Homo sapiens: one gene and its partner. The protein of the gene in region 2 interacts with the protein of the main gene of each other region in a biochemical or structural test. Each region holds a gene or a part of one and is shown on either strand. Other genes may lie near its edges.

Region 1 (15,850 bases), on a different chromosome or scaffold from region 2:
CATATCAGGAGTTCTCACTTCATAAAATACCGTGTACCATTTCTAATACCCACATTTTTTGGTAATAGGGTCATAGTAGGACAAAGATGTTTTTATGACAATGTAGAAAGTTTACCCTTTGTTGGTTAAGCTCCATCATGCTCCAAGGGAAGTAAAGACTTAGTTTTCCTAACTGGAAAATAAGAATTATCAAATTATAGAATTAGCACCGGCCGGGCGCGGTCGCTCACACCTGTAATCCCAGCACTTTGGGAGGCCGAGGCGGGCGGATCACGAGGTCAGGAGATCGAGACCATCCTAGCTAACACGGTGAAACCCCGTCTCTACTAAAAATTAGCCGGGCGTGGCGGCGTGTGCCTGTAGTCCCAGCTACTCGGGAGGCTGAGGCAGGAGAATGGCGTGAACCTGGGGGGCGGAGCTTGCAGTGAGCCGAGATCGCGCCACTACACTCCAGACTGGGCGACAGAGCCAGACTCCGTCTCAAAAAAAAAAAAAAAAAAAGAGAGAGAGCACCTTAGGAATCATCTGCCTCACACGAATATTCTGTAAGTAAGGAACTAGAAAGGAGAACTGACTTGTCAGAGGGCACACAGCTAATTAATAGAAAAGTTAAGACTAGAAACCCATAACTATTCATTCCAATCCAGTGTTATTACACTATAGACACAGCACAAACTTATTGGGAAAGCCAAAAAAAAAAAAAAAAAAGGCTCCCAGCTATTATAAAAATGCATCCAATCTTTATGTTTAGATGGAGTGGCTATAGACTTAAGTAAGTAAATGTTTTTTGCTGAATTTGTGCTTTATCTCTTGCAGCTTATCTCAGATATGGTAGGAATGTAGCCCTTTCAAGACCTCTCAAAATTATTCAGCTACATGAATAAATTCAACTTCAACTTCTAAATGCCTACGAGGTGCTAGCATTGAGGACCCAAAGACAAATAAGATGCTCTCTTTTTTACAGAGGAGTTCACCATCTAATGATCCAAAAAGACACGCATACAACCAGACAAAGTTCCCCATAATGAGAGCATGTTTTAAGGTCCCAGTGCAGAGTATCACATCCTACCTGGAAAGGTTAGGGATGGAGGCTTCCCCTGAAGAGGCCATTTGGGCTGTTTATTGAAGGATGAGGAAGATTCCACCAGAGGGAGGAGGTGAAGGAGGCGGAGGACATTCCAGGCAGAGGAGGGAGCATGAGCAAAGCGTAGAGGCATGAAAGTACTGGCTATTTTTGGAGAACAGTGATTAGACTGAAGAGGTTGGTAGATAGGATAAAGGAAAGTGGGATGGTGGGAGAAGAAGTGGGAAAGTTAATCTGGAGCAAGATGAAGAAATTTGAAAATGATGTCAAAATTTTTAACATGATCTTATAGTAAGGGGGCACTAACAGAAGTCTGCGAGCTGAAGGGTGCCATCATCAGATCCAGGTTTTGAAAGATGACTCTGGTGGTGGTGTAACAAATGGAAGGGAAGTGGGAAACCTGGGTGGGGGGCTTCTGAAAAAGTCTAGGCAATACATCTGAACTGGGGCAATAAGAAGAGGAGGCACAAAGGAAGGGCTAAATTCAAAAGACATTGAAGTGCCTGTTGTTGACACAGGTGAAGAGTCATAAAGACTACACAGCCCATGGAAACACCTCCTAAGACAATCCCACTGATCCACTCTGAACCTCTGCAATTTGATTTACTTCTGTCGATTTGCTGGCCATGTGATACCCACTTTGGGGACTTGTGCTGCTCCAGGCTTCTCCTAAAGGCTTTGTACCAGCTGAATAGCAAATGTAGGCACAGCCTCTTCTGAATCTGTCGGACTGTTTCTGTAAAACCCTGCTAATCTCTCAGTGCAAGATAAAGTTAAGCTGGTACGTTGGCTATGTGGGTGCTCAGCCCCACCCTGTCCTCTCTCCCAACTACATAATGCCAACTAGATCAAATTCTGACTAAAGCAATTCTACTAGTTAAAATTTCCATCAGAGCATTGGCTCTGGAACAGAGAATCTGAGTTCAAGGTTTGACTTTACCATATACTAGCTGTGTAACCTAACTTCTCAAACAAAGTTCTTCATCTATAAAAAGGGGATAATAACACCTATATCTTCCCTTTGATTCAGAGAGAGGCAGAAACAGAGATAAAGGGACACAGAGGAGAGAAATTGCACCCAAGAGAGAATCAAACACATCATAGTGCTTTTAAGCTGAAAACACTGTTATCACAGCAAGCAGTGAATGGCCATGAAAATAAGGAGGCCCGTTTTTAAAAATCTGGATGATGTAAATAAATGAGCCATTTGTTTCATCAAGTCTCATTTCATTTCAGTAAAGATGACATTTGTTATTATTTCTTGGAAAAAAAGAACCATCTTGATGCACTTATGTGTTGCTTTGCCCATTTCCATGCTTTTCACAGACGCAACGCATGGTCAGGAGCAACCTCTGAATGGTAGGTTAGAGTTAATTCTCTTTTTGAAATAAGAGCCAGTGACAAATATCAGACCACTGGTGCACAGAAATAGTGAAAAGCCCTAGTTACTCAAAGAATGTGGCTGACATTGAATACATTATGGTCCAATTATGTTTCTTTTCAGAGCGGTTTAGATGAGCAGATGGAAGCTGAGATTCCCAAGCCTGCAAGTCCCTCTCACAAAATGTTCCCTCTTTTATGTGGCATGGTTTAGATCAGTGATTCTCAAAGTAGGAGGTGGGGAGCCCCCTAGGAAACATGAGAAATAATGCTAGAGTATGAGACAAAAGATTGAGACTTGTATTCTATTTAATATCTTTTTAGTGCATCATTGTGAATATGTTTTATACTGTGTGTGTGTTTGTGCACGTGTGTATTGCTCAAAAATGTTTTATGAGGGGACCATAATCAAACACATTTTGGAACCATGTTGTGGAAGGGTTTTGGGTTAGATCTGGGTTTGAATTTCCTCATCACCTTTGTGATGTGTGTTTCCCCCTGACTTACTAATTTTTAGTTATCCTAAGGAATACGAATGAGGAAGCAATGGATACTGGTCCTAACATCGCCGTGAATTTCCCGTTGACCTAACTGTGTGGCGTAAGAGATTTAGTTCATTTTCATGGACTGCATTTATTTCATTCCTCATTCATACCAGGGGAAGAATAATAATGCCTTCTTGACAAAGTTCTTGTGAGGATTAAATAAATCACTGTTTCTAATTGAGCTCTCTTTTTCTGATTTGGGGTATAAAGGCAGTGTTTTAAGGCATGTGATTTCAGGTCGCCCTCACTGTCCTGGTTCACGCTTTTGCCTGGTCTCCTTCATGCCCTCTGTTTCTCAATGGTTCACCTGTTTATGGTAATTCTGGGAACAATGAGGCAGAAACAGCAGGTTCCAGTCCCAGCACCACCAATTCACTTGCCATTGAGTGGACGTTCAGCTTGTACTGATTGAGCACCCTGCTGTGTGCACAACACGGGCTTACTGTCACCTATTCCTCATAGCATCTCAAAAGGGATTTAGGAATTTCTTCACTTTTCAGATTCAGAAGATGTAGAGCAGTGCTGTCCAAGAGACCTTTCTGCAGTGATGGAAGCATTCTGTAGCTATCCTCTTCACTGTGGAGGCACTAGTCACATGTGGCTGTTAAGCACTTGGAATGTGGCTTCTGTGACTGAGAAACTGACTTTTACATTCTACGTATCTTAAATAATTTCAACTTATATAGCCACGTGCAGTTATGGCTACTGTGTTGGACAGCACAGTGCTGGAGAATGCTGACAGACCCTAGAACTCCAGAAAGTGATTTAAAAGAAAATAAATTAGAGAGAACACTGAAAACAACACCATAAAAAGAAGTGTCCACTAACAAGTGAGAAATTTCAAAGAATTCCAGAGAGAAAGCAGAAGGCTGTGGATTAACAGAGCGAGAAGTCCTGGCCACAGCAGTGTAGCAGCGTGTGGCGAGGCAGGAGCTGTCCTGGGACATCCCAAACTTGCATGTCCTGGGACATGCAGAGTGGAAGGCACCCTGGGCTATCACAAGGGTGATGGATAAGAAGATGGGTCCAGGGCTAGGAGCTTTCCTCACTTTCCAGTGTGGCTCCAGACTAAGGGGCCAGAAATCCCAGGGAACTCCCCATAGAACCAGTGACCTCCAGAGAGAGTGGGACAGCTCACACCCAGGAAACACACCGCCACTGCACACACCTGGTAGCAGGCTCCATCCCTGTCCCACAGTCCCTGCGGGAAAGCTCCTTTAATCAGAGGTGGTATCCACCAAAAGGAAAACAGAAATTCTCAAATGACATGGTAAACACATATCCAAAAATCCCAAATATAGTTGAAAAACCAGCACTATGAAGATGAAACACCAAACTCAACACACAAAAGAACAAATATCCAAGAAAACATAATTGATAGAGCAAACAAAGAAGACTTCCCCCAAGTTAGTATAATGAATATCCCCAGAGAGATGCAAGATGATATGTCATTTATAAAGCAAGGATGGGCTATATGAAAAAATTAGGTATCTTAAAAATTATAAATGTAATTATTTTAAAATCAGTAGATGAGCTGAGCAGAATGTACATGGAGGAAATGCAAATTAGTTCCATGTAAGATTGAGCTAAGGAATTCTCCCTTAATAAACATAAAAGGACAAAGAAATTCTAACTTCTAATGAGAGTTTCAGCAAGAGGAAACATTACATATAGGGAGGGATTAATGAGAGAAATAATAAAAGGAAATTTCCTAAAGGAAAAAAAGTGAGTTTTCAAGTTGAACTCATCCACTAAATTTCAAGCAAAATAAAATTTAAAAGGCCGTAACACAGGAAATTGTCATAAAATTCAAGAGAAGATCCTGAAAGTTTCTAGAGGAAACAAGACAAGTCAATAAAGGAACATGAATATGACTGGCACCAAACTGTCATGTACGTTACTAAAAATAATTGAAGACAGTTTTCAAAGGTCTGACTGAAAATTATTTTGGATAGAGATTCCTAAATTTAACCAAACTAGCATTCAAGTGAAAGCAAAATGAAGACTATGAGGGGCGGGATAGTGTCCCTCCAAAATTCGTATGTTGAAGTCCTAACTCCCAGTAGCTCAGAACGGGACTGTATTTAGAGATAGGGTTCTTAAAGAGGTAATTAAGTTAAAATGAAATCATATGGGTGGCTCCTAATCCAATATGACTGCTGTCCTTGTAAGAAGAGGAAATTAGGACCCAGATACACAAGGAAGACCGTGTGCAGATACAGAGAGAAAACAGCCATCTACATTCAGAAGAAACCAACCCTGCCAGCACGTTGGTCTTGAACTTCCAGTTGCTGGAATTGTGCAAAAATAAGTTTCTGTTGTTTAAACCAGCCTGTCTATGGCATTTGTTACATTATGTGATAATTCAGTAAGTTTACAGCAGACTCTCTCAATGAATTCATCGAGAATGATTTACCTCACACACACACACACACACACACACACACACACATGCACACACACAGAATTAAAAATGTAAGGTACAAAAAGTAAATAAAGAACAGTAATTGGGAGGCTGAGTTGGTTGGATCACCTGAGGTCAGGAGTTCGACATCAGCCTGGCCAACACGGTGAAACCCCGTTTCTACTAAAAATACAAAAATTAGCCAGGCATGGTGGTGGGCACCTGTAACCCCAGCTACTTGGGAGGCTGAGGCAGGAGAATCACTTGAACCCAGGAGGCAGAGGTTGCAGTGAGCTGAGACTGCGCCACTGCACTCCAGCCTGGGTGACAAGAGCAAAACTCCATCTCAAAAAACAAACAACAACAATAACAAAACAGTAATTGAGTGAAGAAAGCACTAAAATTTATCATTAGGTTTAAGTAAGTACTAACCCATAATGAACAAAACTAATTACAATCCAAAACTGAAACTACACATCATGTTGTGGGGAGGTGTGTAAAGGCAAGTTCAGAATGTGCAAAGAGGGCAAGACGTGACGGTCAAAGTGCAGCATTCATTTCAAGCAAGGAAGCTCCTTTTATTTTTTAATGCTTAATTATAACTTTATTTTTTCCTTTGTTCTCCTAAAAAAATAAAACGGGATACATGTGCAGAGTGTGCAGGTTTGTTACATAGGCATACGTGTGCCACGGTGGTTTCTGCACCTATTGATCCATCCTCTAAGTTCCCTCTCCTCACCCATCCCCCACCCCACAGCAGGCCCTGGGGTGTGTTGTTCCCCTCTCTGTGTCCATGTGTTCTCATTGTTCAACTCCAACTTATGCATGGAAGCTCCTCTTTATTTATTTATTTATTTATTTATTTATTTATTTATTATGCTTTAAGTTTTAGGGCACATGTGCACAATGTGCAGGTTAGCTACATATGTATGCATGTGCCATGTTGGTGTGCTGCACCCATTAACTCGTCATTTAGCATTAGGTATATCTCCTAATGCTATCCCTACCCCCCCCCCCCCACCCCACAACAGGCCCCGGTGTGTGAGTTCCACTTCCTTGTCCATGTGTTGTCATTGTTCAATTCCCACCTATGAGTGAGAACATGCGGTGTTTGGTTTTTTGTCCTTGTGATAGTTTGCTGAGAATGATGGTTTCCAGCTTCATCCATGTCCCTATAAAGGACATGAACTCATCATTTTTTATGGCTGCATAGTATTCCATGGTGTATATGTGCCACATTTTCTTAATCCAGTCTATCATTGTTGGGCATTTGGGTTGGTTCCAAGTCTTTGCTATTGTGAATAGTGCCACAGTAAACATAAGTGTGCATGTGTCTTTATAGCAGCATGATTTATAATCCTTTGGGTATATACCCAGTAATGGGATGGCTGGGTCAAATGGTATTTCTAGTTCTAGATCCCTGAGGAATCACCACACTGACTTCCACAATGGTTGAACTAGTTTACAGTCCCACCAACAGTGTAAAAGTGTTCCTATTTCTCCACATCCTCTCCAGCAACTGTTTCCTGACTTTTTAATGATCGCCATTCTAACTGGTGTGAGATGGTATCTCATCGTGGTTTTGATTTGCATTTCTCAGACCTAAAACCATAAAAACCCTAGAAGAAAACCTAGGCAATACCATTCAGGACATAGGCATGGGCAAGGACTTCATGTCTAAAACACCAAAAGCAATGGCAACAAAACCAAAATTGACAAATGGGATCTAATTAAACTAAAGAGCTTCTGCACAGCAAAAGAAACTACCATCAGAGTGAACAGGCAACCTACAAAAATGGGAGAAAATTTTTGCAATCTACTCATCTGACAAAGGGCTAATATCCAGAATCTACAATGAACTCAAACAAATTTACAAGAAAAAAAAACAGACAACCCCATCAACAAGTGGGCGAAGGATAGGAACAGACACTTCTCAAAAGAAGACATTTATGCAGCCAAAAGACACATGAAAAAATGCTCATCATCACTGGAAGCTCCTCTTTTATCTGCTTTATATACTGATTTTCCTCTTATCTACAGAAAAAAGTATTCTGATGCAAACACACACACAAAAAAAATTTTAAAGCTACTATTGGTTGACCAGTTTCAGTGACTCAAGCCTGTAATCTCAGCACATTGAGAGGCCGAGGTGGGCAGATCACTTGACCCCAAAGTTTGAGACCAGCCTAGGCAAAATGGTGAAACCACATCCCTACAAAAAAATTAGCCAGGCGTGCTGGTGTGCGCCTATAGTCCCAGCTACTCAGGAGGCTGAGACAGGAGGATTGCTTGAGCCCAAAAGATCGAGGCTGCAGTGAGCTGTGATCATGCCACTGTACTCCAGCTTAGGCAACAGAACGGGACCATTTCTCTAAACAAACAAACAAACAAACAAACAAAAGCCACTATCCTAGACGATTTCTAAAGTCCTTTCTAGCTTTAACTTTCTAAAATCCTCGTGATTGCCTCGTCTTTATGATGAAGATGCCATTTAGTGAAAACACAGACCACGGATATCTCATAGGAGGCTATGCCACGGCCGTCTTTGTGAAATTACTGCAACCTTCTTGACAGTGAAATATTCTATCCTTCAACAATTGCTTTGTGGGCAGGTAACCAAAGGGCTAATATCTGATGTGAAGGCTGGATCATGAACCTCCCGGTTGGGTTCTACATGTACCTTACCTCAACATCCGGGTCAACATGAGTGGAAGGGGCTTGGTGCCTCAGTTTCCTCATCTATAACATGAAGAATTGGTCTTCACATCTCTGAACCTCTTGTCAGCTTTTCAATGCCATAATTTATATCAGTCCCTGGTGCTTGATCAAATTTAAACGGTGTGAATTCCAGACAAAGAAAAATTAGACCTCCAAAGAAAATATGGGTCTACAGAGACATATCAAGATGTTATAAATATAATGTGATGATGATAAATATGCACTGCTGTATCAAATTCTTAAATAGAAAAGGATAATAACAAAGTAAATCAAAACTTTTTAGAGAAAACTTCGTTTCCTAGGATAGATGGAGTGACAGGTCCCAAGTGATGTGCCAACCTTTTTTCTCCCAAGCTTCTTTGAAGAGATTATCTAAGTATCGTTTCAGACACCCATCACCCTTATTTTTAGCTCTGAGTTCTCTTCACGAGTGTGGTGACCTGTGGCTCTAAGTTCCAGAGGCTCCCAGATATGGCACATGACTCATTTGCAGGTACCCTGCAATGATTTCCAGGAAGGTCAGTGGGGTGGGGGCCTGGAGAAATGATTTTTGATGTTAAACCCTTAGCTCTTGTTCCTGTTCCAACCACTTGATCAGAAATGACACACTTCATAAATTGATCCCTTGGTGCCATAAGCAATTGGCAGTGCAAATAGAACCCAAGTGATTCGGTTCTCCAAGAGGCTCACAGCTGGCTGGGGGGTTGGGGGAGACAAAACTCAGGGCTTTGGTCACAGTCTATTTTCAGCCCCTGATAGCAGTTGTGTTACTCACGTCTCATTCACCCTCTCCCTTGGCCTCCCTCCTGCCCTTCCCCCAGCAGGCCAAGGCTGGTGACAGCCTTCATATATTTAAAGAGGACAAGAGCCCCTCAGACTCAGTTGAGCTGAACGGAGTCCACACAGGCAGGTGAGTGGAGCAAGGCAGACATTTGAGCTGGAGGTGGGTTGGTTCTGTGGCTGGTTTGGACTATAAAGGGTCCCATAGAGTAAGAGCACATTTTACGTCTCAAGTGCCAGCACCCTCTCTGGTTCTGTGCAAGGAGGCTCAAGTTGTACTTGACTCTGGTGTGGATCTAGCAGGTATTAAAAAATTCCTGCAAGGATGGTTAATATTTAGGGGGCTTAAGGGACCTCATAGGCAGATAAATGAGTAAAGAATTATCCTCATTATAAAACTACTTACGTGGTGGAATTACATTTCCTGTCATCTTAGTTGGAACAACTGGAAAGCGGGAGGAAATAATGGAAAGTCTGCTGACCTTCTCGTCTTACAACCACCATATAATTCATGGATGACAGACTTTGAGAAGGTTCCTGCCCTCAGGGGCTTGGTCTCCTCTTCTGCAAGGATCAATACAAATTGGCGACATTTTTTCCAAACTGTAAAGTACTGCACAGATACAAAGCGATAAGCGATTGTACTAGATGCAATATATAAGACAGCTTTCCCATGCTCAATTTACCTGGAATGGTGTTATTCAAAAGGTCGTGGTGAATGACTGAGATTTTGGGCTTGTTGATTTTAAATAGACTTTTGTATCCCAAAGATATTCAGCAACAAGTTTGCTTTTAATCTTTTGAAATTAATCAAAACTGGACCCCAAAAAGACATTGCTATGTTGAAATATATTAAAAGCTCTATTAAATGGGAGGATAATTTATCCAGTGGTTAGGATTCCCACTGTTTCCTCTAGGTTTTAGTCAAGGACTTTTTAAAATATCCCAGTGAATGACAGACATAGGTGTGATTGAGAATAAGAAGAGGTTTTAAGCAATGGTCTGAGTGGAAATGCTGCTGAAAGATCCAAGCTGCCGACTCTAATTTCTGCCCTGTTCCTGAGCCAAGGTGGTGACTCCTCCAAGAAGGAGGAGTTGAGTTACTGGTCTGAGGAACCTTGTCTCTGCAATACGATTCAATGTAATTTAATAAGCATGTATGGACCATCTCCTATGTCAGGGCTGGAGGGAGGTAGAGGCAGCTCTATGCAGGGAAGGGTATAAGTGAACAGCACGAAGAGTGGGAAATTGGGGATGGCCTGTGTCCTCAGTTTACATCTGGGATTAAATCTCAATGCTGGGTACATACAATTCATCACAATGCATGTAGAACTGCTTTATGATCCAGAAAATGTGAGGGAGTCTTATGACTTGGCTTTGTTCCCTTTCTGAACAACTCAGTCGTTTGTGGTCAGTGGCAATGAGCCCAGGCTATTGGGCAGGAGGTGTAGCTGAGCCCCAGGGCTTTGTGTCCTCCCTGGGGTTCAGGCAGACAGGTGCTCTGCAGCCCAGACACACGTGTCATCCATCAGAAACAGGAGACACAGGGCAAGGGGCCTCCTCCTTCGAAGGAGAGAAGGGGGGAAGGAAAGAGAGAAGGAGGGAGGGAGGAAGGGAGGAAGAGAGGAATGAAGGAAGAGGGAGCTGCAGCAGCATTCAGCCAGCAAATAGCCAAAATTCCCTTGGAGGAAGTGGAGACAGAATCTTGATAGAATAGAAACTCAGAAATCCTGGGATATTCAAGAAGAAAATAAAGATAATCAGTTATAGAGCCCGTTCAAATTATAGCTCTGAATATCACTTAACTTATCTGAGTTTCCATTTTCTGAACAATAAAACTAAGGGTAGCCTACCTCTATCAAAGGGACTTGTGAGAATTGAATGAGATAAAGTATAGGAAAGTACTTTTGTAAAGTTTAATATAACCGTACAAATATGTGAGAACGTTGAGAAAAGGCATACAGCCAAACCCAGTGGGTTTTGGGGGGGTTTCCTGCTAAGTACAAGCGTGCTGATAAAAGTCCAGAGGTCAGAGTGGGTAAGAAGCTGACCAGGAGTTAGAAGATAATTAATTTGTTTTACAAGAGGAAAGACCCAGGGCTAGGAATATAACACACAGGAAATACAAGTCTTGAGGCAGACAGATTTCCAGTTACAAGTGTGCTGTTCAGATATCTGTGAATAAATACTGTATAGAGGGTTGGGCTTCATGCACAAAGAGAAATGTGATGCCTGCAAATGTGAAAAACTGCAGTTATTCATCCCAGTGAAGAATGGCAGGAAGGGAGACAGTAATGGTCTTAAAGGGCATTGAGGATGGAGCCTTTTCTGAGCTTTACTGTGGGAAAGGGTTGATCATGATTTGATGGTCGTTTATGGCCTAGGCAGGCATGGAACGAGTACTAGCTTATTTAAGGGTCACAAAAAGTTATGCAAAACTCATTTTTCAGAGGAAGAAACTAAAGTTCTAGAAAGCTTAGGAATTGCCCAGCATCACATGGCTGAGAAAGCGGCAGAGCCAGGAGGTAAACTGGGATATGATGTGGTCTTTAGAAATAAATTGTAGAGGTCAAAATAGAACAAAGAGTGAGTTTTGGGAAGTAAAAGCTGGCCACGCTTCAGATATAATTTCACAAAAGGTGTAAGATGCCCATGTTCTACAGCCTTCATTTAATGTATGTCTACCATGTCTGAGTTTAAAAGGGGCTGAGAGCCAACACTCAGGTTTATTTCCATGCTGGCAATGAGCAACCTGTTCTTCCTGGGCTCTGTGAAAGGGCCTCTGGCCGGAGGACGTCATATATCTGGGTTCAGAAGCTCAGGAGGAAGCAGCCACTGACCTTGAATGTCCTACACCGAGAACTGAAGGGCATGAGCTCCCCAGACTACAGGGCCCCTGGCTAGGCATGCTGCCTCCAACCCAATCCAACAACGCAAGGGGACCGACTCTCACCCCGACCTGGGCACACCTGTCCTGGGGCACCGCACACTCCAAAGGCTGAAAAACAAAGCTGATTCACAGTCTGAACCAGAAGGGCCATGGAAAACAAGCAGGGAGTGAGTTGTTTGTTCTAAAAGAACAGACTTGAAAACTGGAGATAATGTAATAACAACAATAATAGTCATGATGCAAGTAACTACAATTATTCAATTCCTGCTATGTATTAAGTAATTCTATATGGTGTCTTAGCTATTATTATCTTCTTTAACCTGAAAACAACCTTCCCAGACAAGCCTTCTCATATTGTCTTTACATGAGGACATGCATTGAGGACACTGGGTCAGAGAATTTGAGCAACTTGCCCAGTGTTCAACAGTTAGTGTTTCTGAACTTAAGCTTGGTTCTTCCAAAGCCCATGGTTTTCACTGTGGCTATGTCATCTTTCTTACCCAAATTAAGAGTGAATAAAGGAGAGGGTTTGAGAGGGCACCCCATTGGGCAGCTTTTCTGCAAAGTGAGGTTTCAATCACTTTTCAGATCCTTAAATCTGTCTCAGGGCTTAAAGGACCCTTGAAGGGACTTCACTGTATAGCAGCCACTTGGACATCCGTCCCCACCTCAGCTGAAAATCAATAGTGCAGAAGAAATCTCCAGTTCCAAGGAAGCCCTTTCCATGTTGAACAGCCGTAACTCAGAAAGTCATTGATTTCAGTGAATGAATTCAGTTTCCCTGTTAGTCCCACCCTTGAATACCCTCTGTGTCCCATGGAGAGACAATGGATTGGTCACGTCTCAATTCCCATCAACTGGGAAGTCTGGGTGATGGAGGTGCTGACCCTTGTCCTCTCTCCAGTGTTATAAACAGGAGCATGAGATACAGAACCAGCTTAACGGGGGGTTAAATGGCAGCTCTTCCAATTACTAGCTGTGTGACCTTGGAAAAGCTACTTAAGCTCTTCAGTTCTCTTATCCATAAAAATGGAAATAAAATTTGCTCTGGGCAGCTGTTGTAAGTATTAAAAAATAATATATGTAAAGCAACTGACATAAAATAATATATGTAAAGCTTTGGAGTCAGAGAAACGTAAGTTCCAATCTATTCATGTGACACATATCAGTCCCATGAACTTGGACTAATGTAATTTCCCAAAGCCTCCATTTCCTCATCTGTAAAGTAAATGTTATAATAGCACCTACCTTGAAGGGTTGTTGTGAAGATTAAACGATACCCAAGGGCAGTGCTCCAGGCATGTTAACTTCAATAATAAAGTTAGAAATGACTATTACTATCGCTTAGATTCCATATATATATATATATATGTTCCTATGATCCAAAATCTTTGCTTCAGCCAGTGTAGACAATTGAACTCACTGCAGGAAATCAGGCATCTAGTAGGATGACCAACTGAGCTAGCACTGAGCTGAAAACGGTGGCATTGTGGCACTGTGGCTTGAGGTCTCTGCCCAAAGTCATGGCCTAAAGTTCCCTCCTGGGTGCTCATTTTATGTACCCACCACTTTTGCCCTAACTCATCATTGCTCAGCTTTATAGTTGGTAGTGAAAGAAGAAAGAAAGAAAGAAAGAAAGAAAGAAAGAAAGAAAGAAAGAAAGAAAGAAAGAAAGAAAGAAAGAAAGAAAGAGGAAAAGAGGGAGAGAAAGAGATGGAGAGAGGAAGGGAGGGAAGGAAAGGAAAAAGGATGGAAAGAAGGAGGGAAGGAAGGAAGGAAGGAAGGAAGGAAGGAAGGAAGGAAGGGAGGGAGGGAGGGAGGGAGGGAGGGAGGGAGGGAGGGAGGGAGGGAGGGAGAAATAGTTGGATTAGGAAGAATGTGCCCAAAATACACAGTTTAGTTATTCTTTTGAAAATTCAGATTGATGAATAACAACTTAAAATTGTGGGAGAACCTAATTGGTTCTCACATTTTATATTACTCTACAATTTACAGAATGATATGACAGTACTTGAACTAATAGGGTCCTCTCAGCAATAGTGAAATCAAAAGGATTATTGCCCTCATTCTAGTGAAGACACTGAAGTTCAGAGAGATTGAACGGTTTTCCCAGATCACACAGCTTCGAAGAGGCAAAATGGAACTAGAACTCCAGCCTCTGGCACCTGATCCAGTGTTTTTCCCACTGCCCCACTGAAGCACATTCCTAGTATAATCTCTTCTATGGTATTAGTTACATCTTAGTTTAAAAGTGGGCACAAGGTAGTCTCTCACCGGGATCTGAGTATCCAAATCTGGAGTCCAACCTCTTCCAAGTTGATGTCACAGGGCTGTCCATTCTATCTCATCCTCGTAAATTCCAGACTGTCCCCCATTTCAATCTTGACCCACGATTTGTCTTTGACAACATAGTCATCTCAGGGACTGGCCCAGAGAGTCGTGCCAGGTGGTATGATGGAGATTGTGACCCAGGTTACAAACAGGGCCGAGTGACGGGCAAGCCTATAATTGTATCCCACCTTCAATGACCCTTGCCAGTACCAGGCAACGCTGATAAACAAATGGCCCATCCCTTGGTACCTTGCCAGGGTAAGCTCACATTCTGGGAGTGTCTAGGGGAGTGTTGGGACACAAGAATTCCAAAGCAATGCGGGAAGCTGAAAAGGTTATGTTCATAAGCCAGGACCTAACTGGGATTTCAAATCATAGCTCCTTAATTAGCACATTGGTGCCATTTGAGTAACCTAAAGTGAAGTGGGAAAAAATAATTTCTCAATACTGCTTTAAATTCCATCATATTTCCATGACCTTCACAATGGTCCTGCCCAGGAGATACTATTATCAACATTTTTTACCCGAGTTCAAGGTCGAGATTAGAATCCATGTCTCTGGATTCCGAATGCCTTTTTATTTATTTATTTACTTATTTTTTCAGATGGAGTCTCACTCTGTCGCCAGGCTGGAGTGCAGTGGCGCAATCTCAGCTCACTGCAACTTCCACCTCCTGGGTTCAAGTGATTCTCCTGCCTCAGTCTCCTGAGTAGCTGGGACTACAGGTGCATGCCACCACGCCCAGCTGATTTTTGTATTTTTAGTAGAGATGGGGTTTCACCATGCTGGCCAGGATGTTCTTGATCTCTTGACCTCATGATCCATTCGCCTCGGCCTCAGTCCTGGGATTACAGGCGTGAGCCACCATGCCTGGCCTGGATTCAGGATGCTTTAAAATATCCTCTACCTTTTGGCCTGTGAGACATCTTCTGTTTAGCCTCCATGGTTACATTCCCATCTTCAGAAATGGAACTGAGCATCATTAATAGAGTACTTACAGATTTATATTTTAAATTTCAAGTCCTGATGATATATGTCAGATATTTATGATCGCTTAAAAACAACCAGTGCTAGGATACATTAGTTTGTGAAGGAGGTATTATCTGTAATCCTATTCTCATTTTGAAAAGTATGCCTAGGCAATGAATCCACACACACACACACACACACAGATATATATGTATTTTTATCCCCCAAGAGGTATCTCTGTCTCCTATTAACTTGCAAGACATGCCAATGAAATCTCCACTGCAAATCTGAAATGAGAAATTTGACCTAAGGTTGTTTTCATTGAAAATTTCTATATCATTAATTTTACAAGTGTCGCTGCCATGTTCCTGGAGGAAATTTATTATATTTCTCCTCTATTTTGTATCATGCTGAAACTCAGGATCAAAATGAACATGAGCAAAATTATGTGAGTCTATTCTTTTCTAGAAAATGTAACATCTTTAATGAGAGAAGAATGGATTGTATAAAAAGAAGTTGGCTAAGAAAAATATCCCTAAATGCTTACTTTTAAATACACCTTGGTTATAAATGAGAGGGTCCAGCAATCTTAAAAATCTATTCCAGCCCTGAAAGTCTGTAGTTTAAATGGAGTCCAAAATAAACAAATTTGGGCTATTTTAGAGGCTATTTAGGCCTCTACGCCTTTCTGCTTGCTCTTTTCTCTGCATGACTTCATTAGCATTATTCCTTCCCACTTTTCTGTATCT
Region 2 (15,478 bases):
TCTAGGAGCTGGGGATGGCAGGAGCTGAATGTCCCCCCGCCACCCCAACTTCTCTTCTGAGACTGGGATTTGTTTAGACTCTTCACCAAGGAGGCCAGCAAAGGGCCCCTCCCCTCATCAATGGGCTCTCTGGGCAGGAAGGACCCTTGGAAGGCAATGGTCCAGCCTCCTTATTTTAGAGTTGGGGACACTGAGACCCAGAGACAGGGCATGTTTGCTCAAGGTCACCCAGCAACGCAGAAGTAGGACCTAAGGTATCTACCTTCAAACCCAGCAAATTTCCTCATCTGGAATATTCTGAGGACACTCAAACCAGACACCTTGCCCTATCAGAAGGACCTGGTTCTGACCTTAGGAAGCCACTGCATTGTTCCGAGCATCAATTTCCTGTAAAAATAGAGAAAATGGTACCTCGCAGTACTGGGAGATACTCATACTAGCAATAAATAACAGTAATGAACCATTTAGAATAAAGTTACATGCACGAATTTATTCATTCATACAAGCATTTCCTGAGTACAAACTAGGGGACAGGTATTTCACAAAAACAAATAGAGCAGAGTTCCTGCCCTCAGTGTGCGGGGGGAGAGAGGGAGGGATTCAGCATTTGGTGGAGTATGTTAATTCCCTCAAGTTAATTCCTTCAAGAGAGAGACCTCTTTTGAATAGTAGGTACTTAAGTTATTAATCAAATTGAGAGATGGAAAGGACTCTGGAGGCTACCCTGTTCAAACCTTTCATTTTAAGGTGGGGGATGTCAGCCCAGCGGGGAAAGAGGCCTCCCCCCAACCTCATGGAACCCTCCAAATCATGGCCCAAATATTTTCGTGGGTGTTTGATAACTCCCTGGGCTCAAGAAGTCCCAAGAGCTCTCACTGTTCACTCAAGGGTCCTAGAAGCCCCTAGGCTTCCGCCCCCACCCCTACTCCCATGTAATCAAGAAGAGGACGCTGTAGAAGACCAGAAATGTCCTTAAGCTAAAGTACACTTGATAGGTGATAGGTGGGGGACACTTCCCCACAACCGCCTGGGCCCGGGGCCAAGTCAGTAGGCTGTGCCCCTGGGTAGGAACACCTTTGGGTGGAGGGGACTCCCAAAACAAGGCTGCCTTTAATTGGCCTGAGAGGGAGTGGCAGGAAGGCAGATCAGGGAATGCTCCCAGCTGGACAGGAAGAACTGGTTTAGTATAGCAAGCCCAGCCAAACAGAGGAGAGGACAGCTGGGTACTGAGCCTGGGTTCCCTTCCAAAATATGGGGGTGGTAAGGGGAATGATGGAACAGTCGGGGGAACACCACCCACAATGGGAGGGCTACTAGTCAGAGATCCTGGGGTCCTGGATGCCCTCTACTAACCCAAAGTAGTACCATTTTACCTCTCACATTTGGGAAGTGGGCATAATAGAATCCCCATGTGACAGGTCTTTTTGTGAGGACAAAATGCACCAGATCTGTCATATAAAAAGTACTCTATCACTCCTAACTGCTATTAGCAAAGTCCTTCTCCCTGGGCCTCACTTTTCTCTACCTGCAAAAAGAAAAGGACACGCTGGATCATCTCTTCAGTCCGAGCCAACCGTGACTATGTCTGATTTTTCCAACCACAATCTAGAAAAGAGGGAGGGGACAGGCCAAAGGGGAAGCCCTGTGCCCCAGTTACAGGCAGGAGGTCTGTGACATTAGCCAGGAAGGGGAGAGCTGAGGTCAGGATGAGACTTGACACCTATCTCAGGAAGCAGCTGCCCAGGGCTGATGTCTCCTGCAGCTGATGGGTCACCCAGGCAGGACTGACACAGTCCCCTTCCCCCAAACTACATCCTTCAGAATGCCCCCAGGACACAGCTGACTGCTCAGCACCCTGAAGCACCTGAAGGCTCAGCAGCCCCTGGGAGGAAACTGGCATGTGACTGGGCACACGGTGACCTCAGCAACCTCCTGGGTCCTTTCCTCTTTTTCCCTGTACTGCCTAGGTGGTATCCCTTCGGATGCTTCCCCAGTTGCTTGACCCGACACATCCTTCAGGGCCTAGTTTAGAGCACTGTGCTAGAGGCAGAAGGCTTGGGTCCTCAGCCACTAACATTTTAGGCAAGGTAGCCTTTGGTTTAGGTTAAGTCATCACCTCACTCTGGCCTTGTTTCCTTCCACCTCAGAATTCCTTTGCCTTCCAGCCTAAAATCTCAACCTATTCTAAACCCGTCTTTAGTTACCAACGATGGGACACCTGGAGTAGCACAAAGAGTAGAAGTTAAGCTAAAGCAGAAACTTGAAAGCCTGGCTGCCTAAATTTCAATCTGACTCACCCATTTATTGTGTATTAACTGTGTGACCCTGGGCAAGTTACTTAACCTCTCTAGCCTCAGGACCAGTTTAAGAACAGTACACAGTAAGATTGTTGTTGGAATTAAGCTCCTGGATATACCCATTAGAAAGTTATTAGAGCAATGTCTGGCCCCCCGACAAAGGCGCTCCACGTTTGCAATCATCATGGCATGCCTGGAATTGTGCTGGAAGTATTGCCTAGGGTCTCATTCATTCCTCAAGAAGAGCCTGCAGGCAGAATCAACCTTCCGCTAAGTAAATTCAGAGGAACAGGAGCCCCAAGGCTTTCAAAGAAATTAACATTAATGGTTAAACTGCAAGGACTCACTCGCTCTGAAAACTGGGGCTAAAGGGCACAAAGGGGGCACAAAGCTCAGGCTGTGGGGGACAGATTGCCTTCACCAGTAATTCCCATGCCCCCCAACTTCCCAGATGAGATTGCCCCCCTCCTCCTAAGCCGGCTGCGGGCATGGATAGAGCTTCTGCTGGCCCAGGGACAGCTATGACGGAGGCCAGTGGACAGTGAGAAGGAAAGGTTTCCCTGGGCTGATTGAGGCCTTCTCTCCCCCCTACCCCCTTCACCTCACTCAAGGTGGATGCTTCAATTTTCTTATCTGCAATTGAGAAAAAATGAACACACTTCTTGCAGAAAGCAGAGGCTCAGCTCCTGGCTAAGTGTTGAGTCTAAACCATTCCTCTCCTCTGTCCTCGAAAAGAGCAGAGTCCCCAACTTTCTAGAAACCCTAACGCAGTGTCCCCTCTTGCCCCATTCCCTCAGACCCTTGGTGCAGTATTGGGAAGAGATTCAGAAGGGCAGGACTTTGCCCTAAGTCACAAGTCAATGACAGAGCTGGGGCCAGAACTGAGGTTAGGGCTCAGTTCTCCTTGGTGTGTGAAAGAGGGCCTCGCACAACCCTAAAACCCTCCCCCTTCCGAGTACACGCAGCCCCCCGACCCCCAGGGCCATCTCGGATCCTAAAGCTGTCTGCTCTGGGCGCCCCGAGAGCGAGGAGGGGATTCAGCGCTCCAAGCCTGCCCCAGGGTCACCAGGGAAGGGACGAGGGTGTGGGAGTTGAAGAGTTGACACCGGCTTAGTCACTAACGAGCCCGTAGCCCGCGGCGGGGCTGAGGCCCGGGGAGGCGGGAAGAGCAACAGGCGAGGGGCGCACGGCGCGTGAAGCCATCCCGGAGGCTGGCCCGTGACCCCGGAGCAAAGTTTCCAACAAAGTTTCCCGGGCCTCGGTGTCCGGTTGGGGGTAGCGTACCCCCGATCTGCCCCCCCCCATCCCACGCTCCGACGAACAAAGGAGGCACCGGCCTGCGCCCCCGCTTCGCCCCCAGCCCGGGAACCTCCAAGCACCCACCGACTCGGCGACTCCGCCTACGAAGAACAGCAGCAGCGCGAACAGACGGGCGGGGGCCATGGCACCGCGGACTGGAGAAGGCGCGCAGGCTGCGGCGAGTGGCCCCGGGCGGGCGCGCCACCCATCTTATAGGCGGCCTACCGGCCCCGCCCCGGCCCGCCCCCGCCCCGCCGCCCGCACCCCGCCCGGAATTCCCCAGTGGAAGCGAGGCCTGCGGGGCACTGCGCCCGCCCGCGGAGTTGGAAACCCCAAGGGACCCGCCCTGCCCGAGCCCGCCGGCTCCTACTCAACCCCTAGTCCTACCCTCCGGGAGCTCCAACTCCCTTTATTTATTTGACCCACTGCCAGGCAGGTCCCCAGAGATCACTGCGGCTAACCCCATTTTATAGTTGGGGAAACTAAGGCCCAGGGACGGGAAGGACTTCCCTAGGGTGTTGAGTTTAGACCAGCCTTCATACCGGGTGTGCTCCCCTCTGAAGACACAGAACTTCCCAAATGGGATGTGAACCGTGTTAAGACAGGGGACAGCAAACTATTCTGTAAAGGGCTAAATATTTTAGGTTTTGCGGGCCATACGATCCCTGTGGCAACTATTCAAACTCGAGCGTCGTAGCTCAAAAGCAGCCATAAATACTAAAGGAATGAGGGCAGCTAGGTCCTAATAAAACATTATTTATAGACACCGACATTTGAATTTAATATAATTTTCATGTGTCACGAAATATTATTATTCTTTTGACTTTATTCCCAACCATTTAAACATGCAAAAATCGGCTGGGCTCTATGGCTCACGCCTGTAATCCCAGCACTTTGGGAGGCCGAGGAATAGGAGGATCCCTTGAGCCCAGGAATTGGAGACCAGCCTGGGCAACCATAATGAGACCCCCATCTCTACAAAAAGTTTTTAAAGAAATTAACCAGGCATTGTGGTGCACCCCTGTGGCCCAGCTACTCTGGAGGCTGAGGTGGGAGGACTGCTTGAGCCAGAGAGGTGAAAGTTGCAGTGAGCCATGATCGCTCACTGCACTCCAGCCTGGGTGACCGAGTGAGACCCTGTCTCAAAAATAAATAAATAAATAAATAAATAAATAAATAAATAAATAAATGACATTTTATAATAAAAATGCAGGCCGGATGCAGTGAGTCATGCCTGTAATCCCAGCACTTTGGGAGGCTGAGGCGGCGGATCACTTGAGCTCAGGAGTTTGAGACCAGCCTGGCCAACATGCTGAAACCCCGTCTCTACAAAATACAAAAATTATCCAGGCATGGTTGCCTGCGCCTGTAATCCCAACTGCTCTGGAGGCTGAGGCAGGAGAATCGTTTGAACCCGAGGGGCGGAGGTTGCAGTGAACTGAGATCTCCCCACTGCACTCCAGCCTGGGCAACAGAGCAAAACTCCGTCTCAAAAAAATAAAAAATAAAAATGCAAAAACCATTCTTAGCAGTGGGCTGAACAAAAATAGGCGGTGGGCCTCAGCCACTCTGAGACCACTCTGACGCTGGTCTCAGAGTGGCTGACGTCTGTTCTAAGGGCTTCATCTACCAGATTTTGAACTTTTTCAAAAGTTTGATCTCTCTGAGAACTGGTCTGCAAGTTTATTTCCATTCTTAGGGTAAGCTTCCACCCTTTATAAGAGAAAGTTGTGTGTCCTCCTTACCCTTCATCCTCCTAACAGTGCATTGGTGGGAGCAGGTTGAGGGAAGAAGTGGAGGGGGGTGCTATATGGAGACTGTAAAATTCTCTGGGTCCCCAAGCACACGTACTGTTGGAATTATTGCAGGGTGTGAAGGTGGGCATTCTACGATGATCGAAGTACAAAAGAAGCCTAACCCTGTCTCTCCCTGACTTATGTATAAATCTTTCTAAGGGTGTAACATAGCCTTAGAAGTAGGACATTTTGGCCACTGTTGGCATATTATGAATTCATATACTTTGTGGAGTGGAGAATTGGTAGTGACTTCCCTTTTTCCACCTCTTAATTATTATCAAAGAATAAAAGTCTCTTGTGGCAGAGAACCTTGGCAGTAAAGCAAACTTCAAATGCTGACCACGGGGTTTCCACAGATTTAAAGGTAAGCAATGACTTTCAGTGGTTTTTAACATGCTTCCCTAGGATTTGGAACAAAACTGAGAAAATGAAGAAATCTCATGCCAGAATAAGAAATCCTTTTGCAAGTTAAATGGTTTGCAATCTTTGCTTTCCACAAAATTGCAGGGGGGCCTAATCTAGTTGTCAGTAGATAGATCATTAAATATAGAATAGGTAACTGTGATTTTAGTTATCTATTGTCACACTGTTGTAACAAGAGTTCTTCTGTTCCTACCAACTTTTATAAGTTTCTCAGCACTTACAGCCAGTGGTGTGCCAGTAAATGTTTGACAATTGGCTAGGGGAAGTGGCGAGTGCTAATTTGCCAATTTCTGTAGTGTAAATACTACCAGCATGGCTGATTTCAAGCTACCAATGAGATGTCACTGAACATGGAGCTGGGAAGATATATTTCTACCACACAGATACAATAGGTGCAAATAATCTCAAAAGCATGGATAACAGTAAAGTGTAGTGAGATAATTAGTAAGTGATGAGTTTTGAGTATTTATTTCCTTTATGGTTTTGTTTTTGTTTTTGTTTTTTTGAGACGGAGTCTCAATTTGTCACCCAGGCTGGAGTGCGGTGACGCAATCTCGGCTCACTGCAACCTCCGCCTCCCAAGTTCAAGCGATTCTCCTCAGCCTCCAGAGTAGCTGGGACTACAGGCACACACCACCATGCCCGGCTAATTTTTGTATTTTCAGTAGAGACAGGGTTTCACCATGTTGGCCAGGATGGTCTCGATATCCTGACCTCGTGATCTACCCGCCTCAGCCTCTCAAAGTGCTGGGATTACAGGTGTGAGCAACTGTACCCGGCCTCCTTTTTTTTTAATATAATTGTATGTTCATATAAATTAATTTTTAGTAATAGTTATGTTTAACAACTGGCTAATGACATAAAAAAAAAAGCAACAAAAAAAAAACAGGATCTCTCTCTGTAGCCCAGGCTGGAGTGCAGTGGCAAAATTATGGCTGATTGCAGCCTCAACCTCCCAGGCTCACGAGATCCTCCCACCTCAGCCTCCTGAGTAGTTGGGACTAGACATACGCCACCACGCACAGCTAATTATTATTATTATTGTTATTGTTATTATTATTATTATTATTATTATTTTGGTAGAGACACAGTCTTACTATGTTGCCCAGGCTGGGTTTGAAGGCCTGGGCTCAAGCAGTCCTCTCAACTTAGCTTCCCAAAGTGCTGGGATTACATGGCACCCAGCCACAAAATTTCTAAAAATTGACTTTCATGAACCACTACAAGATGGCTTTACCACACCATGGTTTGACAGCTATAAAAAATGAAAAATAGGAATAAAATTATTGCTAAAACCTGTTTCATTCTAGCAATATTCGTTGAGGTGTTTGTTTGTTTGTTTGTTTTTGACAAAGTCTCACTCCATCACCCAGGCTGGAGTGCAGTGGCACAACCTCTGCTCACTGCAACCTTAGCCTCCTGAGTTCAAGTGATTCTTGTGCCTCAGCCTCCCAAGTAGCTGGAATTACAGGTGCACATCACCATGCCTAGCTAATTTTAGTATTTTTAGTAGAGATGGGGTTTCGCCACATTGGCCAGGCTTGTCTCAAACTCCTGACTTCAAGTGACCCGCGTGCCTCGGCCTTCCAAAGTGCTGGTATTACAGGCATGAGCGACTATACCCAATCTCATGGAGGTTTTAGTGAGCTAATTGGAGAGAAAAATTGCCACAGCCACCTAATTAAGACAGGTATTTCTAAAACAACTTTACTTTTTCTACTTAATAATTATTTATCAAAGTTTGTAGGACTGGTTTAGAGAGTGATGTGATTTGGATGTTTGTCCCCTCCAAATCTCATGTTGAAATGTGATTCCTAATGTTGGAGGTGGGGCCTGGAGGTGACTGGATCCTGGGGCAGATCCCTCATGAATAGTTTAGCATTATCCACTTGGTGATAAATGAATTCTCACTCTCAGTTCACGCTGGATCTGGTTGTTTAAGAGTCTGGGAACTCCACCTTCCCTGTCTCTTGGTCCTGATGATGCCATGTGAGATGTCTGCTACCCCATTACCTTCCGCCATGATTGGAAGTTTCCTGAGCCCCTCGCCAGAAGCAAATGCTGGAGCCATGCTTGTATAGCCTGCAGAACTGTAAGCCAATTAAACCTCTTTTCTTTATAAATTACCCAATCTCATATATTTATAGTAACGCAAACAGCCTAACACAGCAAGCATATATTTATGTCAATTGTATACTTTAAATATGTATAGCTTATTTTATGCCAGTTGTACCTTAATGAAGCTGTTTAAATTATTGCAGGACTTTTTAAAAGAGTCATCAGTAAGCCTCTGACGCATTAAAAAAAAACACATTATGATAAAATTTTGTGGTGGAACATGGAGTAGAAATTTGACTTCAAATAGAAAAAGAAATGATGCAAAATGTCTGACTCTTAGAAAAGAGCTTGTTCATGTATTTTTTAAATGGATGATTGTAGGTATCGAATTGCTAGGGCATTTAATTTAACTGGATACATTTAAAAGAGTGATGTAATTGTTTTACTTTTACGTGTATAAATTTACAATATGCCAGAAATTACAACCTTTGCAACTATTTAAACTTTTGATGAAAAATGTTAAGCTATCAACTAAAAATTATGTCAAGGAGTACCTAGTCTTAAAATAATCATTTACAGAGTACACTAGCAAAAAAACAAAAACAAAAACTGAAAACAGCTCGTTTAGAGAGTTAATGGAAGTTCTTCTATAAAACTATCTTAACCTCCTGGAATTAAGGAAATAATTTCCCCTTCCCCAAGTTCTGAGAATCTCTAAAGGGATGCAACATGTTTGAATATAATTATTTGTGGATGTATGGGTCTTTAACCTGGGCTCCATGACTGGGGGCAGAGGACACATGCATGGTCAGTACTCCTCTAGGTTATGTGTCTCTGCATACATTATTTTGGGGCAAGAAACTTCAGATTCTTTCTTTATATCCACAAAAAGAGGATGTTTGGGGGATCCTCCTTTTGGGTGATCCTGACCCCCAAAGAGTTAAAAATAATTTGTCCAAAACCTGAGATTCTTTGAGAAGTTTTATTGGGTTCTTCTTTGGCCTCCAAAAAACAAAATGCAGTAGTCAAAGGTTTGTAATACTGAATAGGAGTTCCTAATTTCCTGCATGGGGCTGAGGTACAAAAACCCAAACAACCAAACAAAACCCACAGTGTTTACAGCCAGAAGTTCTTCATTAAAATCCTGTTTCCAGGACTTGCCAACTGGAGGAAAGTTTGTGAGTCCCTTTGCTCCTCCCTACAATGGAGATAATTCCCTCTTGAACTAATTAGGAGAATGGAATAAGGTGAAGTGGTGAACACATAACATATACTCACCTATGTTGGGTCCAGCACTCTTTCTGTATATTCTAACCTGAGATTGAGTGAGTCTGAGAGATGGCATTGGTCAAACACTTTACATCCTCCCCCTAGCTTCCTTTCAAGCAAAAGGAAATGATCTAGGACATCAACAGGCAGCCCCCTCCCATGGAGCTAAAAAATGAGCTCAGACCCAGCCTATAGCAGAGGTGGTGTCCCTCCCCCTTTTCTCAGACTTCCTAGGCCGGAGTTAACCAAGGCTAGGTGCACACCTGGTACATCCAGAGACACCTTAAATGCTACCTTCTCCTGGAATCCTCCATCCTCTTCTTTTAATTCTCATTTCTTCCTGCCTTGAGGTTTCTAGGACTCTATCTGTCCCACTCTTTGGGCAGGCATCCCTTTCTCACTCATGTTAGTTTTAGGTGAAGAGCACAGTCTTCAAAGTTAAAGAGACCTAGATTGCAATCTTGGTGGTATGGAGCAAGACACTTTTTCTCTCTGTGCCTCAGTTTTCTCATGTGTCCCCCCATGTAATTTGAGGGTCATTATAGTTCTTAACATCATAAAAATGTTAAGACTACAGTGCTTAGCACAATACGGAGCATCAAAGTGTTATCTATTTTTATAATCAAGGGGGCCTCCCCATAAGAGTCTTGACTTACTCCCCTCCCCAGCAGCTCCTCACACATGGTTAATAACAGGTAACACATTACTATTTTCAGAACAGAAAAAGGATTGGGCCATAGGGCTCTCGCCCAGGATGGTGCCAACCCTTTCTGGTCTTCCTCAGTTTATGTAAATCTCTCTCCAGCTACAGATAATGACAGCTTAGAGTTTCCAGGGGCTGTGGAATGTCCAGCCACTGCCTTGCATAACCACAGAAACTAAGAACACTAGGCCCAGAAGGGTCCTCTCAAATCATTCAGTCCAACAGTACCCGCATTATAAGATAGGCAAACCGAGGCCCACACGGTGAATCAGCATCCACCACAGGCATTTTGAAGAATTCTAAAAATAACACCTCCAATTACTCTTTCCACTTGCTTTGCTTTATTTTTTTGTCGTAACATTTCCCTTACCTGCCATCACGCACTTATTCTTTTACTTGTTTATTTTCTGTTTTCTCTGCCACATGTAAGTTTCATGAGGGCAAGAACATTGTTGTGTTCACAACTGCATCCCTTGCACCTTGTCCAAGGTCTGGCAGAGGTTTACATTCAGTAAATACTTGTCGCATGGATAACTGGATGAATGCCATTTGGACATTTTCCCTTAGAGGCTCAGATGTAGCAATTCACTCACTTGGTCATTTATCCAAAAAACATCTGATGAATATCTTGTATGTGAGAAGCTTTTTGATAAATCCTGGTGAACAAGACCTGTCCGTGTTCTTAAGCAGCTCCCTGATTAGCGGACAATAGCTGCCAGCTATACAGTAGACTGAGGATCTACTATATGCCAAGCTGTGGGCTGGCAACTTTATATGCATCTTCTCTGTCTTAGCTCAGTTCTTGCAATTGCGAGGAAACATGCCTCACTCAGGACTCCTTAAGAAAAGGCTTAGGAGTTATTAGGAGGACCGGGAGGGCTAAAGGTTAAAACTGAAAGGGAAACATCAAGGACTGAGATGATGCCACAGACTGGCTGACTCATCTCTTGCTCTTTAAGCCTGCTTATTCTTTCTTTAAGAGTGTCTCTTCTTTTTCCTGGATGTGTGCCTCTCTCTCTTTTACTGACTTACTGGTTCTCTCTTCTAGTCTAAATTTTGGGAGGGGACCACAAGACTCATTGGCTTGGCCAATGGCCTTCCTTATTCCTTAAGTAAGCGCCTGCAGCCCAGACCACTTTTTGGATTACTATTTGGCCTAGAGGTTGAACATTTAGCTTCTCACATACCCTGAGCAGAGTGTATGTTTAATCAGAAGGGAGTGTTGAGCATCATCTTCACTTGGATGCTGTGAAGTAAGTAGTTTTATCTCTATTTTACAGATGAGAAAACAGGCGGAGCAAGGAGAAATGACAACAAAACCGTAACTGTAACAAAGCTGCCCTAACCCACCTGCAAATCTACAATTGAGAAATCCATTTCTGTTGCCCCTGAGATTTGTGGGGTGTTTGTTAAGTAGCAAAAGCTGACTGATACAAGATTCAAACTCAAGTTTCTTTGATTCTGTCTGCATCACCATGCTGTCTCACTGAACTTACAGCCCTGATTCCTGTTCCTGATTCCCAAGTGTCCTGTCCTAAAAGGAGCAGAGATAAATATTGTATTCATCCATTTTCTGATGTTATAACAGAATCCCACACTGTTGGTGTTCTGAGTATACTGACATTCCTTGACGCTAGATTTTATATTGTTGATTGACTTGTTTATCATCTCTCTCCTCTATGAGATTAGAGTATTTTCTCTTTATTCACTTTATTCATTTATATCCATACCACCTGGATCAGTTTCTGGCACATAATAAATGCTCAATGAATATTTATCAAGTAGATGATTGAATGAATAAATAATGATAAAAAGGAAGTGTAAAAAAACAACTTTTCATCTTAAAACAAGGCCCTGAGTCCTTTAAGGTCAGAATAAAGAATAATTTCTAGGTAGGGACAGAAAGTTTAGTACATGATGGATGGGGTCAAGAATCAAGGTAAGAAAACTTGAAGGTGTGAGGCTGGGCACAGTGTCTCATGCCTGTAACCCCAGCCCTCTGGGAGGCCATGGCATGAGGATCACGTGAGCCCAGAAGTTTGAGACCAGCCTGGGCAACATAGTGAGATTCCTTTTCTACATAAAATAAAATAAAAATAGCCAGGCCTGATGGTATGCACCTGTAGTCCCAGCTACTCAGGAGGTTGAGGTGGGAAGATTGCTTCAGCCCCGGAGTGTGAGCCTGCAGTGAGATATGATAGCGCCACTGCACTCCAGCCTGGGTGACAGAGCAAGGACCTGTCTCTAAAATAACAACAAAGGCCGGGCACAGTGGCTTACACCTGTAATCCCAACACTTTAGGAGGCTGAGGTGGGCAGATCACCTGAGGTCAGGAGTTCGAAACCAGCCTGACCAACATGGTGAAACCCCGTCTCTACTAAAAATACAAAATTAGCCGGGCATGGTGGCACATGCCTGTAAATCCTAGCTAGTCAGGAGGCTGAGGTAGGAGAATCACTTGAACCCAGGAGGCGGAGGTTGCAGTGAGCCAAGATCACACCGTTACACTCTAGACTGAGCAACAAGAGTGAAACTCCGTCTTAAAAATAAAATAAAATAAAACAACAGTACAACAATGAAAATAATACAAATAAAAATTAAAATATAGTTTCACAACTATTTACATTGTATTAGATGTTTAGAGATGACTTAAAGAATGTGGGAAGATTGCATAGACTATATGCAAATACTATACCATTTTATATAAAGGATTTGAGCTTCTCTGGGTTTTCATATCTGCCAGGAGTCCTGGAACCAACCACCCATGGATGCTGAGGGATGGCTGTACTCAGAGGTCCTTCCACCCACTGTCATGCCTGGCATCATCCACCCTGCATAGATAGAGGGTTTGCAGAAAACCCCTGATCATTAGACACAGAACACAGAAAACCAGTTTCCTGACTCCCTCTGGTGTGAAGGAAAGAACAGGGAGGTTGGGGTGGAAAGTTAGAGTGGAAAGACAGACACCCCAGATGTTTCTTAACTTTTGATTATTCCAGCTGACAAGACATGCCACACCTCAATGTGTACTGAGTGTGAGTCACTTCCTTCTCTAAGCCTCAATTTCCTTACCTGTAACATGTGGACAATGTTTATACCTACATCCCTGGGGCTGTTGCAACAATAAGATGAGGTCAGGTAGATGAAAGCTGTATGTCACTGTAATGTCCAGTGCCTTTTTTTTTTTTTGAGACAGAGTCTCACTCTGTCACCCAGGCTGGAGTGCAGTGGTACAATCTCAGCTCACTGCAACCTCTGCCTCGCAGGTTCAAGCAATTCTCCTGCCTCAGCCTCCCAAGTAGCTGGGATTACAGGCATGCACCACCACTCCTGGCTAATTTTTGTATTTTTTGTACAGACAGGGTTTCTCCATGTTGGCCAGGCTGGCCGCCAACTCCTGATTGCAGGTGGATCCACCCACCTCAGCCTCCCAAAGTGTTGGAATTACAGGCATGAACCACCTTGCCTGGCCTTCAGTGCGCTTTTTGTTACACACTGAGAAGGAATAGTGTGTGGAGTCAAACTGGCCTGGGTTGGAGTTCAGCTCTACCACTCACTGGCAGCATGGCTCTGGGTAAATGTCCCTTCTCTGAGCCTCAGGATCTGCATGTGTTCAGTGGGGCTATTAATAGTTCTCAACTCACAGGCTTGTTTTAGAAATTAAATAAGGATTAAATTATATAAGTGCCTGTCATACAGTAGATGCTCAGCAAATATTCCTCCCCAAACACAGACACAAACAGCACTTAAAGCAACCTGGGTAACAAAGGGGTTTTCGGTCTGGAGGAGAAACCAGGCAGCTAATGAGCTCTCTCTCCAGTTTTCCTTCTAAGAGAGGAACTCACTGGCCAGAGCCCAGGATGGTCACCGATGTAGAGGACAGGCAGCCAACTCCAAGCCTCCCACGTGGGGTTTCCAAAAACCTGTGAGCACAGAGTTGCATAACGTGTCCCTGAGACACGTGTTTCTACTGAAGTGTCTTCATCAAATATTCCCTGAAAGGAAACATGTGAGCAGGGCAGTAGGGCAGCCTAGCGGGGGAGGAAGGGAGAGGGGGAGGAAGGGAGAGAGGGAGGGATCTAGAGAACACGACAGTAGGGGTGAGAGGAGGAAGAGAAGGTATCACATTTAATGTGCTCTTACTATGGGCCAGCCACCGGGCTTGACTTGTCTGATACATTGTTAGATCCTTGCCATAAATCTGAGATCAGGCATTTCCGTTCCCACATTCCAGAGGAAGAAATAATAACAATCATATTAACATTGCTGAGGTTAACATAGTGCCCACTGCATATCAGGCAGTGGACTAAGCACACATTTGACCCTCAGGACAGCCCATAACATGGGTACTATTCTGAACTCCACTTTATAGAAGAGGAAACCAACTGAGACTCAGAGACATGAAGTAACTTTCCCAAGGTCACCCAGCAGGACAGCAAGACAGCCAGAGAGCCAGGATTCGAATCTAAGCAGGGCTCTCAAGCCTATGGGCCTATGGGAGAACATTTCCCAAGGGATTTATGGGGGTGGATCCAGAAGGTGACCTTAGCGATTGTCCTTACATGCATGCAGTGGGGCCCCAGTGTGAAAGTGACGAAAGAGACCAAGTGACCAGAGGCACTCCCCTCCCCTCCACCCAAAGGACAGTTTGTCCCAGCTTGTGGCTTTTCGTCACTCTGCCTCTGACCTGAAGTTTAACATTTCATTCATAAGTTTGGAACCACAGACTTGGCAGCGTAGGAAGAACCCTCGTAGACCAGCTAGCTATTCAAATCCAATCCCCTCATATTACAGATGGAAGAAAACCCTGAAGCCGGAATGTGACTCGCCAAGGTCACAGAGCAGTTTTCTGTTGGATGAAGGAGCCGGTTTAGGGTCAACTACAGATCATCTTGTGCTGTAGTTATCAAATGTGGGTGCACCTCTGAATCACTTGGGGAGCTCTCTAAATACACAGATTTCCACACTCTGCTTTGGGAGACTTGAACTGGACTTAGGTTTGCAAACAAGGACTGGAAATTTGAATATCCAGTATGTTCCTCAGGTGATTCAGATGGCACAGGGCCATGACAGCATCTGCAAGTCGGAGTCCAATGTCCCTCTTTCATTTGATAGTTTGGGATACTGGGACCCACCAGGGGACTCGCCCAAGGTCACATAGCAAGCCAGTGGGGCTCTAGTTCAGACTCTGTGGTCTGAAGCAGACTGCTTGTGGTCAAATTTGAAAATGGGCCAATGAAGCTAAACAAAGGGGTTGCCATGATTTTCCCCAGCTCTTGGTTTCCTTCTTGGATCCAAATTAAGACGGAGGATGATGTACATTTCCGAAGCTTGGCAAGGCGGGAATCCAAGAACTGAACTCCCAAAGGGGAAAGGAAAGGGCAGGAGGTTAGCTTGCACGCCCAGTGGGGTTTTCCCAGAGGTGAGCTCCGGACTCCAGGGATGACATCAGACATTCCAGCCAGCCCTAATATCAAAAGCTACCTGTGTTTTCTAGTTCAGCAGAATGGGTAGGCAGGGCCTTTCCTATTGGGAGGAGATGGGGTGGAGTGGGCCCAGCTGTGACGTGAAGGGAGCAGAGCCCAGGAAGAGCCACGCATTCCAGCATCTGCAAGGAAGACAGCTGCCCTGG

Evidence for each region.
Region 1: the proteins of SDC4 (region 2) and CSRP3 form a complex in vitro, tested with the Homo sapiens proteins (one study listed by IntAct).

Annotation. Positions count from the first base shown.
Region 1 is NC_000011.10:19,195,145-19,210,994, reverse strand, and holds the start of CSRP3 (cysteine and glycine-rich protein 3), read left to right. Parts: upstream 1-9,011; 5' UTR 9,012-9,041; intron 9,042-14,075; exon of another isoform or gene 14,076-14,282; intron 14,283-15,850. UniProt on the Homo sapiens protein: Positive regulator of myogenesis. Acts as a cofactor for myogenic bHLH transcription factors such as MYOD1, and probably MYOG and MYF6.
Region 2 is NC_000020.11:45,344,645-45,360,122, forward strand, and holds the start of SDC4 (syndecan-4 precursor), read right to left. Parts: upstream 3,781-15,478; 5' UTR 3,741-3,780; coding exon 3,681-3,740; intron 1-3,680. UniProt on the Homo sapiens protein: Cell surface proteoglycan which regulates exosome biogenesis in concert with SDCBP and PDCD6IP.